2 linked regions of the Homo sapiens genome follow. The protein of the gene in region 2 purifies or fractionates together with the protein of the main gene of each other region. This does not show direct contact. Each region holds a gene or a part of one and is shown on either strand. Other genes may lie near its edges.

Region 1 (7,000 bases), on a different chromosome or scaffold from region 2:
TCTCTGCGTTTCCGGGGGAAACAGCCGGCCCTGCCCTGGGAGGGTCACAGTCCGCCCGCTGCTGAAGGCGGCTCTGAGCTTTTCCGTCGCCACATCCCTCTCCCGCCCCTCAGTTCCCTGAGTGTGGCTTCTACGGCCTTTACGACAAGATCCTGCTTTTCAAACATGACCCCACGTCGGCCAACCTCCTGCAGCTGGTGCGCTCGTCCGGAGACATCCAGGAGGGCGACCTGGTGGAGGTGGTGCTGTCGGGTGAGAGGTGGTGGCCGGCCTGGGGGCGGGGCCTCGGGTGGGGGCGGGGCATCTGGGGGAGGAGAGGGTAGGGGGAGTTAGAAGTCAGGAGAGGCCGGGTGTAGTGGCTCACGCCTGTGATCCCAGCACTTTGGGAGGCTGAGCTGGAGCTGGGGGGATCGCTTGAGCCCAGGAGTTCGAGATCAGCCTGGGCAACATAGTGAGATTCCATCTCTACCCCTTTCTCTCCCTCTGAAAAAAAAAAATAAGGAGAGTTGGGGGCTTCTGGAAGATGGTTACAGAGTGGGGTCATGAAGGCGCTCTTTAGGGACTGGTCTAAACTTTCATTTATGGATTAGGATGCTAGTGACACGCTTTGTACAGTTTGAAAATTCATTGAGCTGTGCACTTGTGATGTGCGGCCTTTCCTGAACATATGTTATACTTATTTATTTATAAAACTAGTCAAGTGCAGTAGTTAGAAGGGGGAAAAGAGGAGAAGAAGGAGTTGGATCTGTAACTGACTGTGTTATGCTTAAATATAAAGGTAAAAAATGGGCCAGCTGCAGTGGCTCACACCTGTAATCCCAGCAGTTTGGGAGGCTGAGGTGGGAGGATCGCTGGAGCCCAGGAGTTTGAGACCAGCCTGGGCAACATAAGGAGACCCCATCTCTTAAAAAAAAAAAAAAAAAAAAAAGTTAACCGGGCGAGGTGGCACACGTCTGTAGTCTCAGCTACTTGGGAGGCTGAGGTGGGAGGATTTCTTGAGCTTAGGAGTTTGAGGCTGCAGTGAGCCACGATCATGTCACTGCACTCCAGCCTGGGCAACAGAGAGAGACCCTATCTCTAAAAAAGAAAAAAAGTAGAAAAAGAAAAAAAAAAGTTATGATGTCCATGGCTCCTGCCACGAAAATGCTAAATTAAATCAGAATCTCTGCAAAGTGAGATGGAATCTGCACATCAGTATTTTTAAAAGCCCCCAGGTGATTTTCTAAGACACAGCCAGAAGCCAGTTCATCCACTCACTATTCCAGTAGTATAGATGGGCATGCTCTCAGCACCTTAGAGCAGTCTATGGCCCTTGGTCCCTCTTGAGGGTGGGGGCAGCTGCCTTTTTCATGGCTGCCTTCCCTGCTGCTCCGGCATACTGCAGTGCCCAGTGAAACCGGCTCAATGAATGAATGACAGAAGTCTGGATTTACACCTTTAGTGACCTTGTTCAGGCTTTAAGTACTCTTTCATATCATAAGCTGGCCTCACTTGAATTTTTATCTTCATTGTTGTCTCTCCCCTAAACCTGAGTTTTGTTTTGTTTTTGTCATTTTTATTATTTTTTGTTTTTTTAGACGGAGTCTCGCTCTGTCACCCAGGCTGGAGTGCAGTGGCGCAAACTCAGCTTGCTGCAACCTCTGCCTCCTGGGTTCAAGCGATTCTCCTGCCTCAGCCTCCCGAGTAGCTGGGATTACAGGCGCCTGCTACCACACGTGGCTAATTTTTGTATTTTTAGTAGAGACGGGATTTCACCTTGTTGGCCAGGCTGGTCTCGAACTGCTGATCTTAAGTGATCTGCCCACCTCAGCCTCCCAAAGTGCTGCGATTACAGGTGTGAGCCACCGCTCCCGGCCCTGTTATTTTGTTTTGAGGCAGGGTCTTGTTCTGTCACCCAGGCTGGAATGCAGTGGCATGACCACCACTCACTGCAGCCTCTACCTCCCAGACTGAAGCAATCATCCCGCCTCAGCCTCCTGAGGTGGCTGGACTATAGGCATTACAGGCATGCACCACCACACTGGGCTTTTTTTTTTTTTCTTTTTTTTAGACAGAATCTTACTCTGTCACCCAGGCTGGAGTGCCGTGGCATGATCTTGGCTCACGGCAACCTCTGCCTCCCGGGTTCAAGCAATTCTCCTGCCTCAGCCTCCTGAGTAGCTGGGATTACAGGCACGCGGCACCAGGCCTGGCTAATTTTTGTATTTTTAGTAGAGACGGGGTTTCATCATGTTGGCCAGGCTGGTTTCGAACTTCTGACCTCAAGTGATCCGCCCACCTGGGCCTCCCAAAGTGCTGGGATTACAGATGTGAGCCACCGGGCACCGCCTATCCATGTTCTTTTTTGTTGTTGGTGGTGGTATTTTTAATTAAAAATTTTTTAATTTGGTAAAATATACATAACATAAAAATTACTATTTTAGGCCGGGTGCAGTGGCTCACGCCTGTAATCCCAACACTTTGAGAGACCGAGGCGGGCAGATCACCTGAGGTCGGGAGTTTGAGACCATCCTGGCCAACATGGTGAAACTCCGTCTCTACTAAAAATACAAAAATTAGTCGGGTGTGGTGGCGCATGCCTGTAATCCCAGCTACTCTGGAGGCTGAGGCAGGAGAACTGCTTGAACCCGGGAGGCGGACTTGTGGTGAGCCGAGATCTCACTACTGTACTCCAGCCTGGGTGACAGAGTGAAACTCTCTAACAAACACAAACAAAAAAGCCCACAACATTTTAAGCACTTTTAAGCGTACAGTTCAGTAATTTAAAGTTCACGCACACTGTTGTGCAGCCGGTCTCCAGAACTGTTGTCATCTTGCGAAACTGAAGCTCCTTGCCCGTTAAACAACTCCCCAATTCCCGCTCTGTCCCTGCCCAGGGCGTAGGGATATATGTGTTTTGTTCAGGGGTGGAGCTGGGATTTGAACCCAGGCAGAATGTAGTATGAGAGCAAATGAAGGAAGGAAGGAAAGATCACACCTTGCGGCTGGGAGCACTGTGAGAAATCAGGGAACGTGGGGTCTGGAAAAGCTTTGGCCTACCCCGCCTCAAGCATCCACCCCTATTTTCCGCCTACAGCCTCGGCCACCTTCGAGGACTTCCAGATCCGCCCGCACGCCCTCACGGTGCACTCCTATCGGGCGCCTGCCTTCTGTGATCACTGCGGGGAGATGCTCTTCGGCCTAGTGCGCCAGGGCCTCAAGTGCGATGGTGAGAGCTAAAGGGTTGGGGGCGGGGCCTGGGGCGGGGCTCTGCACCGGGGGCGGAGCGTAATGGTCCTGGCACGGGGACAGCGTGGGGAGGAGGAGCGGGTCTCAGAGCTGGGGGCGCAGCCTAGGAAGTAATAATGGGAAGAAGGATGGGCCCAGAAGCAGAGCTTGGGGAAGGAGTGGTGGGGCTGGGCCGGGGCTCAGGTCTAGGGGCGGAGCCTAGGAGGTGGAGCTGGGAGGGACAAGTAGGGGCTTAAGAACAGAGCCTAGGGGAGCAGAAGGGTGGCGGGGGAAGAGGGTGGGGCCTCTATCAGTTAGGGATCAAGCAGAGAAACATCCAGGAGGAGATATATATTGAGATATTTATATGCAAGGAATCAGCTTACAGAATTGTGTGGGCTGGCTAGGCAACTCAAATCTGGCTGGGCACAGTGGGGGAGGCCAGTAATCCCAGCACTTTGGGAGGCAAAGGTAGGTGGATCACTTGAGGCCAGGAGTTCAAGACCAGCCTGGGCAACATAGCAAGACTCTGCCTGTACAAAAAATAATTAGCCAAGCATGGTGACAGACACTTGTGGTCCCAGCCACTTGGGAGGCTGAGGCGGGAGGATCACTTGAGCCTGGGAGCTCGACACTGTAGTGAGCCCTGATTGCACCACTGCACACCAGCCTGGGTGACAGAGCGAGACCCTGGCTCAAAAACAGGAAAAAGGCCGGACACGGTGGCTCATGCCTGTAATCCCAGCACTTTGGGAGGCCGAGGCGGGTGGATCACGAGGTCAGGAGATTGAGACCCTCCTGGCTAACATGGTGAAACCCCGTCTCTACTAAAAATACAAAAAATTAGCCGGACGTGGTGGCACACGCCTGTAGTCCCAGCTACTTGGGAGGCTGAGGCAGGAGAATTGCTTGGACCTGAGAGGAGGAGGTTGCAGTGAGCCGAGATTGTGCCACTGCACTCCAGCCTGGTGATAGAGTGAGACTCCTTCTGAAAACAGAAACAAAAACAAAACAATAAAAAGAAAAAGAAAAAAAAATCCATCCTATCAGGAAGGGCAAGTGGGAACTCAGGCACAAGCTGAAGCTGATGTCCACAGGTGGAATTTCTTCATCCGAAAAGTCTCTGATCTGCTTTTTAAAACATTCAGCTGATTGAATGAGACCCACCTAGAACAAGCAGGATCACCTCTCCCACTTACAGTCAGCTGATTATGGATTTTCATCACATCCAGAAAATACCTCCACTGGGCCGGGTGCGGTGGCTCACGCCTGTAATCCCAGCACTCTGGGAGGCCGAGGCAGGTGAATCACCTGAGGTCAGGAGTTCGAGACCAGCCTGTCCAACATGGTGAAACCCCGTCTCTACTAAAAATACAAAAAAGCCGGCGTGTTGGTGGACGCCTGTAATTCCAGCTACTCGGGAGGCTCAGTCAGGAGAATCTCTTGAACCCGGGAGGCAGAGCTTGCAGTGAGCTGAGATTGCACCATTACACTCCAGCCTGGGCAACAAGAGCAAAACTCTGTCTCAAAAAAATGAAAAGAAAAGAAAATACCTCCATGGGGCCTTCTCTTCCCAGTTCTTCCTGGAGTCGGGGAAAAGCTGGGTTGAGAAGGTGAAAAGAAAAAACAAACCTTGACTGGGCACAGTGGTTCACACCTGTAACCCCAGCACTTTGGAGGCTGAGGCAGGCGGATCATGAGGTCAAGAGATTGAGACCACCCTGGCCAACATGGTGAAACCCCATCTCTCCTAAAAATACAAAAATTAGCGGGCGTGGTGGCATGTGCCTATAGTCCCAGCTACTTGGGAGGCTGAGGTAGGAGAATCACTTGAACCCAGGAGACAGAGGTTGCAGTGAGCCGAGATCGTGCCACTGCACTCCAGCCTGGCAACAGAGCGAGACTCCGTCTCAAAAAAAAAAAAAAAAAAAAAAACCACAAACAAACCAACCTTCATGGCAACATCTAGATTAGTGTCTGAATAACTGTGGATCTCGCCTAGCCAAGCTGACACATTAACATGACTATCAGGGTCCATCTCTTGTCAACCTGGCACCTGTCTTAGTTTGTCAGGGCTGCCTTAACAAAATACCACCCTGCGTGGCTTAAATGACAGACATTTACTTCTCAAAATCCCTGGAATTGTGAGAGGCTGGAAAGACAAAGATCCAGATTCTGGCAGGGTTCTGTTTCTGGTGTAGCCTGCTTTCCTGCCTTGCAGAGGGCCATCATTTCACTGTGCGCTCACATGGGACACGGAGAGAGAGATCCCTGGTATCTCTTCCCTTTATAAGGAAGGCCAGGCATGGTGGCTCATGCCTATAATCCCAGCACTTTGGGAGGATGGTGGATCGCTTGAGTCCAGGAGTTCGAGACCAGCATGGGCAACATGGTGAAACCCCGTCTCTAAAAAATACAACAAATTGGCCAGGCATGGTGGTGCATACCTCTAGTCCTAGCTACTCAAGAGGCTGAGGTGGGAGGATCACCTGGGCCTGGGAGGTTGAGGCTGCGGTGAGCCGTGATCATGCCACTGCACTCCAGCCTAGGTGACAGAACACGATTGTCTCAGAAAAAAAAAAAAAAAAAAAAAAAAAAAGGTCACCAGTCCCATTGGATTACAGCCACACTCTTTCGGCCTCAATTAACCTTAATTACCTCCATAAAGGCACCGTCTCCAGATATAGTTGCATTGGAGGTTAGGGTTTCAACATAAGAATTTTGGGGGAGACACAGACATTTAGTCCATAACAGCACCCATACATATCTCCTTAAATCATAGTTTAAAAATATACAGGTTTTCTTTTTTGGAGACAGCGTCTCAGTCTGTCACCCAGGCTGGAGTGCAGTGGCGCGATCTCAGCTCACCACAACCTCCACTTCCCAGGCTCAAGCGATTCTCCTGCCTCAGCCTACCGAGTAGCTGGGATTACAGGCACACACCATTACTGCCCGGCTAATTTTTGTATTTCTAGTAGAGACGGGGTTTCACCACGTTGGCCAGGCTGGTCTTGAACTCCTGACCTCAAATGATCCACCCGCCTTGCCCTCCCACAGTGCTGGGATTACAGGCATGAGCCACCGCGCCTGTCCAAAACATACAGTTCTTTAAGCCAAGATGTCTCAAGGTTCAGCCCAAGTGTCAAGATCTATATAGGTCCTCTGTCCCTGTTATTCATGCTTCTGAGTGAGAATGTTGAAATCGGGGCTCTGCCTACAGATGAAGGCCATGTACCTGCATTGGCTATGAGGACAGATGACAGGTGAGGACCATCCATTCTGTGATGAGACCCTGTGGCTCCATTGTTTTGTGTGTGTGAGACAGAGTCTTGCTCCGTCACCCAGGATGGAGTGCAGTGGCGTGGTCTTGGCTCACTGCAACCTCTACCTCCTGGGTTCAAGCAATTCTCCTGCTTCAGCCTCCCAAATAGCTGGGATTACAGGTGCGCACCACCACTCCTGGCTAATTTTTGTATTTTTAGTAGACGGGGTTTCACCATGTTGGCCAGGCTGGTTTCAAGTAATCCACCCTCCTCAGCCTCCCCAAGTGCTGGGATTACAGACATGAGCCACTGCGCTGGGCCCCATGCGCCTCCATTTTTGTATGGTGTGCCCTGCAATTAGAGCCATATTCTTGGATGTTCCATTGGGTATTAGGTCTGAGACAGCATCTCTAGCTCCGTGGGTGCCACGCTTGTACAGAAATCCTGATTCTGGGCCAGGCACGGTGGCTCACACCTGTAATCCCAGCACTTTGGGAGGCCAAGGCGGGCGGATCATGAGGTCAGGAGTT
Region 2 (6,003 bases):
AAGTGTTTGAAAATTGGTGATCTGATCCAACACCCTCAGCCTACAGAAGAGGAGCCTGAGGCCCAGAGGGAAGCACTTGTTCATTCGAGCCAGGGAGTCACTTGTTACTGAGGACAGCCAGGACCAGGCAATGTGAGGCAGGACCAGGAGTACCCACCATCCCCGGGCCTGCTGGCAAGTGCTCCAAGGCCGCATCCTTCTGAGGCTCAGCCAGGGCAAGCAGCTGCTCTGCCTTTTTTTTTTTTTTTTTTTTTGAGATGGCGTCTTCTCTGTCACCCAGGCTGGAGTGCAGGGGCGCGATCTCTGCTCACTACAACCTCTGCCTTCTGGGTTAAAATGATTCTCCTGCCTCAGCCTCTTGAGTAGCTGGGACCACAGGTATGCGCCACCATGCCCGGCTAATTTTTGTATTTTTAATGAAGTGGGGTTTCACCATGTTGGCCAGGCTGGTCTCAAACTCCTGACCTCAGGTGATCCGCCCACCTCGGCCTCCCAAGGTCCTGGGATTACAGGCATGAGCCACCACGCCCGGCCTCTGTCTGTCTTTATCCTTACAGTCAGGGCAGTTTTAACCTCAGGGCAGTGAGGACCTTGGGAGTCTTTGGGGTTTGTATTAAAGAAGCAAGGCCTGCTTGGTGGCTCAAGCCTGTAATCCTACCACGTTGGGAGGCCGAGATGGGATCTCTTGACCCCAAGAGTTCAAGACTAGCCTGAGCAACATAGTGAGACCCCAGCCTCTGCAAAAAATTTAAAGAATTAGCCGGGTGTGGATTGCTTGAGCCCAGGAGTTCGAGCTTGCAGTGAGCTGTGATTGCACCACTGCACTCCAGCCTGGAAAGCAAGTCAGTGGCCCAGTTTGGGCTCCTTTATCAGCGAGAGTGGGAGAGATAGAGAGCACTCATGGGTGCCAGGCACCTTACTTGGTGCCAGGATGTAAAGATAAAGGCACAGTTCACTCTTTTGAGAACCTCAGAATCCAGTCAGAGAGACAGTATGGAAAGATTTCATGTAAAAAGTACGTGTAATTGTTGAGCACAGTTCAGTGTCCTGGCCAGGTGAAGTGGCTCACACCTGCAATCCTAGCACTTTGGGAGGCTGAAGCAGGAGGATCACTTGAGGCCAGGAGTTCAAGTCCAGCCTGGGCAACATAGTGAGAAGATTGGGTGTCCTGCACATAGTAGGAAGCCAAAAATTTGTCAAGTGCAGGTGTCTGCTGTTCCTGGGAGGTTTTAGAGGGGAGCAGACGCTTGACTGAAGCTTGAAGGCTAATTAGAAGTTTGCCAAGCCAGACGGAGGAAGGTGGAGAGGGCAGTCAGTGCAGCAGAGGGAAGAGTCCTGCATAGGGGTCACGGAGGCAGGAGACTGTGTGTGCAGGGGGTGGGTAAGTGGATGGGGTGGCAGGAGGTGGGGAGTGGCAAGGAGACCACAGAGATCAGATCATGAGCCGCCGTGTTTTTCACACACACCCCATCAAAGGGTTTCAAGCTGGGGAGTGACAGCTTCATATCTCTTCTCTGAGAAGGAGTGGGCTGGTTGAATCCCTCTCCAGGGCCCTCCCTGCTCTTGCATTCTGGAATGTTCTATTTGCGACTAGTGGAGGCGGCTGGGGGAGGGCTGGGAGCTGGGCTGGCTTCCTCCCTCCTCGACCACACGCAGCAGCCAAGCCTCAGCCCGGCTCACCAGCCACATCTTCTCTTCCCTTTGGTGTGTCTCCCTGGGGTGGGCAGGACCCACTGCGGGAACATGCTGCAGCCTTACCTGAAGGACAACAGTGGCAGCCACGGCTCCCCCACCAGCGGTATGCTCCACGGGGTCTTCTTCAGCTGCAACACGGAGTTCAACACGGGCCAGCCCCCGCAGGACTCCCCCTACGGCCGCTGGCGCTTCCAGATCCCAGCTCAGCGCCTCTTCAATCCCAGCACCAACCTCTACTTTGCGGACTTCTACTGCATGTACACGGCCTACCACTACGCCATCCTGGTGCTGGCGCCCAAAGGCTCCCTGGGGGACCGCTTCTGCCGCGACCGCCTGCCCCTCCTGGACATTGCTTGCAACAAGTTCCTGACCTGCAGCGTGGAGGATGGGGAGCTGGTCTTCCGCCACGCCCAGGACCTCATCCTGGAGATCATCTACACTGAGCCCGTCGACCTGTCCCTGGGCACCCTGGGGGAGATCAGTGGGCACCAGCTCATGAGTCTGTCTACTGCCGATGCCAAGAAGGACCCCAGCTGCAAGACCTGCAACATCAGCGTGGGCCGCTAGGGACTCCTGGGGAGCTGGGGGGCGAGGGAGAGATGAGCGGAAGGTGGAGGTGGGTAGCCCAGGTTCAGGGAGCTGGCTTTCTCTCTCCTGCCCCCCTGCTCCCTCCACTCTGCCCAGCTGCCCTCCCCTCGCCCCTTGGCATTGGAGGCAACAGACGGTGGTCCTCTTGGTAAGTGTGGCCCACACCCAGCCTGGTGGACATGGAAAGGCTTCTCAGCCTCTGTAGTTGGCAGCTGGGCTGGACTTCTGGAGAACTTCCCCTTTCCTCTGGTTTCCTTGTCCTACTGTTCTTTGCCTCGTCCAGGTCTCTATCTCCCAAAGACCTGCCCACCTCCTGGGCTCTCCCAGGGAAGCCCCTCTGGGCCAAAGCCCATGGGTAGCTTGGCTGCCTCCAGAAGAGATGCAGAGAGCTGTGGGGCGATCTTTCTTAGTCCCACTCACCCCACTCAGGGCCAACCACAGAATGCCCCCTCCCTGCTGAGCTGGGTCTCTGGGGCTTCCCACTCCAGGCCTGGATCCCTTCCTTCTATAAATAGTCTCCTGCACCACCGTGACTCCCTGGCTGCTCCTTGCCCCAAAGAACCCTCTTCCTGCATGGGAGAGCTGTCCCTCCTTCTCCACCTGCCCACCGGGACACTCCCCCTGCTCTCTAGAAAGGAACTCTCTTTCTTCTCTTGGCACTGGGGGCGTCAGGCTGTCGGATGTTCCTTCCTTCCATACCCCAGCATACCTTCTCCTTGCTTAGAGTGCAGGGGTCTGAGACAGCAGCCACTGGGGTTGAGGAGGGGGAGGAGACCCCTGAGACCCAGAGGTGCCCCTTCCTCAGCTGGGAGTGGGCCGCCTCATGCTCTGCTGGGGCCTGGCATGGAACGTGAGACCTGTAAGCTGTCCCGCGGGCCCCGGCACCCCGCCCAGCTGTGCACTTTGCTCACTCGCTCTGCCATGGTGCCATGACTGTACTGTGCCCATGCGTGACCTGGACTGTGGACCCTCTGCTGCTCCGCCTCTCCCCTCCCCACTGGCTCTGTCTGCTCTCCTGCCACCCTGCTGGCCGGGAGCCCCTCCCCGGGGAGTTCTTGGTGAAGTCCTTCCCGGGCCTCCTTGTGTTTTTGCCTCATTCCTACTGTCACACAGGTCACGAGGGTGGACTCCCTACAATCAACAAAGCAAACAGAGAGCCTGTGGGAGGGGCTGACAGCAGCAGCCGGCTGTTTGGGGGATGATGGAGGTGACATCAGGCAGAGGAGAGTGCAGCCTCACAGTGACTTTCTCAGAGGTGACAGAGATGATGGATGAGCAGCTGGATTTTCGTGATGAAGGACGGAAGCAGCAGCGGGCCGGCAAGGCCATACCTCGGTGAGGGACAGGTGGACAACGGTCACCTATCTGTAGCCAGGGGCAGTTGTGTGGCCAGCTGTCTCTCTGGGATGAGTCAGGAGGCCTGGAGGCTTGGGGAGAGGTGTGGAGAAGGAGAGAACATGGCCCAGGCCCTTTCCTTCCCCCTGTGCTGACAGCATTGCTGTGGGGGTGGCCCACTGCCCTCCCCTGGCCCTCATGTCCCCCCGGGGCTGGGGTCCGCCTGCCTGTGCTGTGCTTGCGACGTGCATCAATAAACCACCATGGCCTGAGGGCCCTGCTCGTCTCAGTCCATTTGAGCTGCTGTAACAAAATACCACACATTGGGTGGCTCAGAAACCGCAGATTCATTTCTCATAGATCAAGGTGCTGGCAGAAGCGGTGTCTGGTGAGGGCCTGCTTCACAGATGGCTCTTTTCACTGTGTCCTCACAGGGTGAAAGGGACTAGCAAGCTCTCTTGCCCCTCCTTTTTTTTTTTTGTAGACATGGGGAATTTCACCTTGTTGCCCAGGCTGGCCTCAAACTCCTGGCCTCAAGTGATCCTCCCACCTGCTTGGCCTCCCAAGGTGCTTGGGATTACAGGCATGAGCCACTGCTCTGGGCCATCTTGGGCCCCTTTCATAAAGGCACTAATCCCATTCATGTGGCCCCACCCTCATGACCTCATCGCCTTCCAAGGCCCTGCTTCCTAAAACTATCACCTTGGGGTTAGAATTTCCACCTAGAGCTGGGTGAGGTGGCTCACGCCTGTAATCCCAGCATTTTGGGAGGCTGAGGCAGGTGGATCAGTGGAGGTCAGGGGTTCAAGACCAGCCTGGCCAATATGGTGAAACCCTGTCTCTACTAAAAATACAAAATTAGCTGGGCGTGGTGGTGCATGCCTGTAATCCTAGCTACTGAGGAGCCTGAGGCAGGAGAATTGCTTGAACCTAGGAGGCGGAGGTTGCAGCAAGCCGAGATTGCGCCATTGCACTCCAGCCTGGGTTACAGAGTGAGACTCCATCTCAAAAAAAAAAAAAAAAAAAAAAAAAAAAAGTCAACCTAGGATTTAGGGGGGACACAAACATTCAGACCATAGCACCCCATCCCTTTGGGCCAGTGATGGTATGGGTGAGTTCTGCAAACCACAGAGGAGCTCAGGTGGGAATGCCCCCAGGACAGGCGACCTGAAATCAGCTCCAAGGGAGCACCTCGTCCATTGTGGGAGGCGGGGCTCAGGATGTAGAGCTGAGTCTCCAGCTTGGAAGGGACTTTGGAGTCTTTTGGTCCCACCCAGTGTTTCCCATATGGGGCCTCCCACATGGGGCGTCCTAGGAGAGGACTCACAGCATCTGGAGGCCCCGTTTGGAGCTTTTGAAGCCTTCCTACTACAGCAGCTTGCCATTGCTCCAGACCCAGATGCCACCAAATGTCCCTGTCCCAAGTGCCTGAGTGTCCCCGCTCCCCAACACAGCTCCCGTTTATAGATCCCAGTCACCTCTGCATCTATCATTTTATTATTATCATTATCATTATTATTTTTGAGATGGAGCCTCGCTCTGTCACCCAGGCTGGAGTGCAGTGGCACGATCTTGGCTCAGTGTAACTTCCACCTCCCAGGTTCAAGCAATTCTCCAGCCTCAGCCTCCCACGTAGCTGGGACTACAGGTACATGCCACCATGCCTGGATAATTTTTGTATTTTTAATAGAGATGAGCTTTCACCATGTTGGCCAGGCTGGTCTCGAACCCCTGACCTCAAGTGATCCACCCACCTCAGCCTCCCAAAGTGCTGGGATTACAGGCATGAGCGAGCCACTGTGCCTGGCCATTATTTTTATTTCTTGAGACAGGGTCTTCCTCTGTTGTCCAGACTGGAGTGCAGTGGCACGATCATGGTTCACTGCAGCCTCAACCTCTGGGGCCCAAGTGATCCTCCCACCTCAGCCTCCAGAGTAGTTGGGACCACAGGCGTACACCACCATGCCCAGCTAGGTTTTTTAACATTTTTTATTTTGTAGAGATGGAGTTTCCCTGTGTTGCCCAGGCTGGTCTCAAACTCCTGGGCTTAAGTGATCCTCCTGCCTCCCAAAGTGCTGGGATTACAGGCTTGAGTCACTGCACCTGGCCTGCATCTATTGTTATGGACTTATTGATATGGTCCTCTGCTGGAGTAGAAAAGCTCTAAAGAAGTCAGAGTCCTCACCAACACTGCCTGACTCAAGGCCATGTTCACGTGTGTCATCCAGAGCTCAGGGCACAGCCTTTTTGGGGTAGAAAGGAAAGCAGAAGGGCAGATGATGGCTCCTGAGGGCCTACTATGCACCAGGCACCTGGGTGCTGTCACACACATCAGCTTCTTTAGTCTTCACGATGGTCCTGGGGAGTATTATTCCCACTTAACAG

What was found.
Region 1: the proteins of PHYHIP (region 2) and PRKD2 purify together in Homo sapiens (affinity purification with mass spectrometry; 3 studies listed by BioGRID and IntAct, with this or other methods). This does not show direct contact.

What each region holds. Positions count from the first base shown.
Region 1 is NC_000019.10:46,707,115-46,714,114, reverse strand, and holds part of PRKD2 (serine/threonine-protein kinase D2), read left to right. Parts: exon of another isoform or gene 1-113; coding exon 114-252; intron 253-3,076; coding exon 3,077-3,208; intron 3,209-4,760; exon of another isoform or gene 4,761-4,833; intron 4,834-7,000.
Region 2 is NC_000008.11:22,217,612-22,223,614, reverse strand, and holds the end of PHYHIP (phytanoyl-CoA hydroxylase-interacting protein), read left to right. Parts: intron 1-1,727; coding exon 1,728-2,262; 3' UTR 2,263-3,912; downstream 3,913-6,003. UniProt on the Homo sapiens protein: Its interaction with PHYH suggests a role in the development of the central system.